Regions from separate parts of the Homo sapiens genome. Here region 2 is linked to region 1. The links come from fine-mapping of genetic effects on gene expression. Tissue or cell type: esophagus muscle. Region 1 holds a variant in brackets; the other region holds the start of a gene. All regions are shown on one strand. Distances are from middle to middle.

The links. PIP is the estimated chance that this variant, and not a neighbour inherited with it, causes the effect.
Region 2: HHIPL1 starts here. The variant in region 1 is fine-mapped to the expression of HHIPL1 in esophagus muscle (GTEx, PIP 0.96).

What each region holds. Positions count from the first base shown.
Region 1 is chr14:99,715,122-99,717,871 of GRCh38, reverse strand. It overlaps CYP46A1 (cytochrome P450 family 46 subfamily A member 1), which reads right to left. Exons shown (of 15, transcript NM_006668.2): 8 at 1,912-2,062; 9 at 1,673-1,735. Among named protein-coding and RNA genes, the nearest start is that of CYP46A1, 32 kb to the right of the region's middle. The variant C/T (reference allele first, on the strand shown) is at 1,132.
Region 2 is chr14:99,643,809-99,646,410 of GRCh38, reverse strand. It overlaps HHIPL1 (HHIP like 1), which reads right to left and starts at 1,282. Exons shown (of 9, transcript NM_001127258.3): 1 at 949-1,282. The coding sequence starts at 1,203.

The DNA.
Region 1 (2,750 bases):
CTCCATTTTGGAGAAGAGAAAGTGGAGGTGGAGAGGAATGGGTCTCTGTGGTCACACAGCAGGGAGAGTGGGGGGGACACAATTCAAAGTCCGTGAGCCCAAGGCCTCGCCTTCCCAGGATGCAGGGTGCACACAAAAGCCCCCCATGACCCTGAGGTTCTATGAGGGGGTGGTGGACATTTCGGGAGGCTGATTTTGAGTTCTGGCAGGGTCTGGCCAAGGTGATAGAGTCAACCCCTCCAAGCTGGCCTGGGAGGGAACAGACGTGAGTTTACTCTAAAGGAGCCAGGGGGCTTGAGGGGCCTGCTTGAATGCAGGAGAAGGGCCTATAACTTACAGCAAGTCAGAGCTGGGAAGCAGGGCCCAGCTCCTAGGGTGTGGAGGTGGGCCATTCACACAGCCAGCGGAGCCCTCAGCCTGGGAGCAGGGTGGGAGAACACAGCAGCCCTGGCCCCAGCTCTGCATCGCGGGCTGTGACTATAGGAGGCCACTTCCCTCCTCGGCCTCAGTTTCCTCACAGGCAAAGGGAAAGACAGACACAACCCACCGTGCCCTCGGCCAGTCCCCCATAGCATCTGGACGCAGGGCTCAGGGATAGACTGGAGGGACGAGACGGGATTAATAAACCCTCTCTGGAAGGCTGGATAGAAGCCTGGAGAGCTCCTCAAGGCCCCCATTTTACAGATGAGGAGACTGAGGCTAGGTCTGTCCAGAAGCCTCATCCAGGACCTGGGTTCCCAGCTGCAGGAATGAGGACCAGCCATTGGTTCCGCAAGTCCTTTCTATCCATTGCAGGGAATGGCGCCCTGCAGCCTTGCTTTAACACTGGCCGCTTCTAATCTCCTGGGGCATCTGCAAGTGCTTCTCCCACCTAAAGGGCCTTCCTCCATGCCTTTCACCTGCAGACCTCTTCGTCCATCAGTATTTGTCTCTCTGTCTTTCCACCTCCACCAATAGGCTAGAAACTGTCCCTCATCTTGTTCACCTCCATCTTCCCAGTGCCCAGTGTCAATCATTTGTTCGTGTATTTCATTCAATGTTCATGGGATTCCCTACCACACTGGGCCCCAGGAGAACAGAGGTGAGCAAAACAACCTGACCCTTCGCTCATCAAGTCTGGTGGGGAACAGA[C/T]GTCACTCAATTACCACAAATAAATAAACAGCTTAACACAATGAGATGGGTGGTGGGGAGGAGCCCCAGGCCTGTGGTCAGCTTCTAGCTGAGTGCCTGAGGCAGCCTGTGCTTCCCTGGGGAGGAGGCATGCGAGGGCTCACTGACGGCTGAAGAGGAGTCTTCTAGGTGAAGAACCATGTTCAGGAAATATCTGATGAGCAAATGAATGAAGCTGCTTAGCATCTCTTCTTGTGCCAGTCTAATGCAGGCCTCCCCACAAATTCTGAGTGAGGGGATGCCTGCATTCACACAGCCAAGCTCTCTGGAGCTGACAGGCCAGCTTCACACATCCCCACAATTGCCAGCTGCATTACCAGGTCAGAGGCCCCCAAGACAGCTAGGAGATGGGGCTTCTGCTCCCTTCAGCCCAGCCCCCTAGCCCTGCGGTGAGCTCTGCTCAGATAGCCCAAAAAATCCCAAAGAGTTGGGTTTGAGGGATCCATGGTCCACAGCATTTCTGCAGAGCTCCGGGCCCTTGGCCACCGCCAAAGCTACAAACCAGCAATGAAGAAGGTGACGAAGTTGTCCAGCAGACCCTCGTCGTCCTGGGCTCCCTCTTCAGCTGAAAAACAAGGAGAGTCTCAGTTCCCAGCAAATCTTTGCTCCCTTTCCCCATGGCTCATAAAATAACTAACTGTGTTTCTCCTCTTAAGCCAAACAGAGTCAGTGGCGATGTATCACCTGGGGAACGTCCTGGCCCACCCCGCCCTCCCCAGTCCGCAGAGGGGGCCCTTGCACCTTTCAGAATCTGTGTGAGGATGTCGGCAGGAACCTCCTCGCCCCTCTTCAGGGCTTCCCGGCGGCGCTGGACCCAGTCCCTGCCCACCTGGCGCAGGAAGCGAATGCTCTCCCGGACCTCCCGGAGCTGCTTCCTCTTCCCTGGCAGGAACTAAACAAGAGTTTCAGCTCCAGATGGCCAAGTGAACACGCATGTTCCCTCTCCCCTCTCCCCCACCACCCCGAAATGACGTTAGCGGCACTGGCAAGCTGGGAGGTCAGTAGAATGTGAGAAATTCTAGAAAAGATGAAGCAGCCAGGGAGACTGGATCAAGATGGCAGACTGAGCCCAGGCCTCAGCCTCCCTTTCCTGCACCAAATCCTTAGCAGTGGTGGGCGGGATGGCTTAAAACATCCACGTGGCCCTGCAAGGTAAAAAGGGACCCCTGATGAGTGGAGGCAGCTAGGCTTGCATCGAAGGAAGAAATCCCAAGCAGTGGGAAGTAGAGTGCGATCAACTGCCAAAAAGACGGGGCGGCATTGGCGGCTGCAAGCTCAGGGGCCGAAGTCCCAGGGAACGGGAGGGGGCCCTGAGATGAACTCAGCTATCACCTTTCCCCTTTCTTCCTTCTTCATGACTGGAATAAGGAGGTGATATGTGGAGCTGCAGCAGCCATCTTTTTAAAAATCTATATATTTTAATTGATACATAATAATTATACACACATATGGGGTACATGTGATATTTTGATACATGAATACAATGTGCAATGGTCAAATCAGCATATTTAGGATATTCATCACCTCAAACATTTATCATTTGTGTTGGAAACATTTCAAATCTCCCTGTTTTTGAAATA
Region 2 (2,602 bases), 71 kb after region 1:
CAACTCCAAGTCAGCCTTCTTGCCCTTCCCCACACCACCTGCCCCTGCTGGCCGAAGGCTGGGACACGGCCCTGGCCCCTGGGGCCTCTCCACCCCAGGCCTCTCACTGCCCAGATGCTGAGGCAGGAATGCCTTGGGGCTGCCCGTCCTGCTCCATTTCTGCATTCAGCCAGGCAACATTTGCCCACTTGGGTGTGGTCAGGCCCTGGGGCCTCAGACTCCCACAAGAGGAAAACAAATAGCGGTGGCACCACCAGGTGTGCACAGAAGCAGGGGCTCCACCCTCAGAGGGAAGATGGGGGGCCCAGGGGCTTCAACAAAGAGCTGTCGCTCAGTCTTGAGAGAGCTTCTGCAGGCCAGGGCGCCATCCCCAGGAGAGGGCACAGCACCCACAGAGGTGGTGGCGGAAGTGGCAAGGGCATCAGGATGGGGGTGAGACGCTCGTGGGGGACAGTGGCCCCAACCCCCTCAACAAACCCGGGCCACACGTTGACCACGCCCACGCCAGGGCCCCCTGCTTTCACTGCCCCGGGGACAACACAAAGGAGCACTGACCGGGACAGATGCCTCTCCACCTTGGTACCCCGACAAGGGTGCAGCTGCTCGGGGTGGGACGCTGAGGGGTCGACTCCAGGGGACTGGGGCAGAAGAGCCCCCAACCTCTGAGGAAATGATGACATCATCTGTCCGTCCGTCCGTCCTTCCTGCTTCAGGAGGGGAAACTGAGGCCCCGAGAAGGCCCAAGTCACAAAACTAATGAATGGCAAAGCCAAGAGTCGTCCTGGGATGCGCGGTCTCCCCGCCCCGTGCCAAATGACTCCCTGTTGGGGCTTAGAGTTCCCGAGTCCGCCGCCCACTCTTGGCCCTCGCCCCCGCGGGGTTCCGATCTCTGCTCCAGGACTCGGCCTCCCGCGCCCCGCCCCGCCCGGTGGCCGCGCGCCCGCTCACCTGGCACAGCAGGTCCCTCGCGTAGCCGGCGCACGCGGCCCACTCGGCGGCGTCCACGCGGCTCGCCAGGGCCCAGAAGCGGCGGGTCAGCTCGGCGTCGCGCCCCTCATCGCAGCAGCCGAAGTCCGAGTACTGCGCGCAGAGGCGCAGCGGCTGCGTCGGCCGGAAGGGCGGCCTGAAGTCCAGGCACTGCGGATGCGCGGCGGCCCCGAGCACCCAAAGCGCCAGCAGCGCCCCGGCCCTGGCCCGGGCCATCGCTACGCCCCGCGGGGGAAGAGGCGGAGGGACGGCAGCCCCGGTCCCCTCCCGGGGCGCTCGCGGCGGCAGGGAAGGGGCGGGCGCTCCCCTTCCCTACACGCAGGGCCTCGAGTTTGGGGACCTCCCCTTCTAGGAGGTCACCTCTGGTCGGGGACACTCGGCGGGACTGAAGGAAGAGGGACGCGGCGCAGAATGCGGCACGACCTCTTTTAACCGCTTTCCAAATTCGATGGGAGTGGCCCGGTCTGTTTAAAGCCCCGGTGTGTTTTCCCGGTTCCGCCTGGGGCCCTGCTTCCTCCCCACAGGGCGCTCTTTAGCCAGGGAGGCGCAGGGCCAGAGGCCTGGACTCCTGGGCTTCGGTTCCACCTCCCACTGGGCTAGGGAAACGGATGCCCGCAGCCCGTCCCCGAAAGCTCCCACGTAACATTTTAAAAATGGGGGTGCGAGGGAAAGAACAGGGGGTGTTGCCCCAGGACTCTCAGGGAGAAGTGAAACCTGGCGTAGGGGTGGGGAGGGAGGACGGAGCAGTCTCCGCAGTCCACCCTTTGCCCTTACTGTGGGCTTCTTCCCAGTCTCTGCTCCTGGGGCAGCGGATTCTCCTGCAGCCCAGGACCCACTGGGGCTCCCCACTTCCACTCTCGCATAGGGAGCACTGATGAATCTACCTCCTGGGATGGGCATCCAGCCCTTTGTTCCGCTGCCCCCGCTGGAGATTCAGACCCAACCCCGCCCCACCCCCCCACACACATACAGACGCACACACGCTGTCTTACCTACCCCAGAATCTCATGGCACCAAAACCACCCACACAGACAAACACACACACACTGTCTCACCTACCCTAGAATCTCACAGCACCAAAACCACCCAGGCATTTTTCTCAAGTGGACCTCAGCGTTTGCTTCTCCCTGGAGTGTCCTTCCCCATCTTCTCTGTCCAGTGAGCTCCTACTCCATCTTCATGGCCCCAACGCACACATCCGTCCTCTGCAGGTCTCTTTGGACTGTCCTGGGGGATCATGTTTCTGTCTTTGGGCCCATGCTCCTGGCAGAGCTGGGGGTGGATGAGATGCGGCAGGGCTGGAGCACTCAGAGGTCTGTGGCTCTGGCCTGAACAGGTGCAGTGTAAGAGTCAGGGTCTCCGCACAGCCAAACATCTCTGAGTATTTGAAACACGGGGAATTTAACGCAGGGACTTGAAGCCAAAGAGGCTAAGAAGCCATACAGGGCTCAGTGAAGTAACCTTGAGATCAGCAACAGTAGGAACAGTCCCCAGGTCCTTGATGCAGGAAGAGCAGATGTTACTGGAGCCAAGGAGCTATGGTCACCTTGTCAAAGCTGGACCCTCACAAGGCCTGTCTGGCCACAGCTGGAGATAGCCACTGTCAGAGATTCTG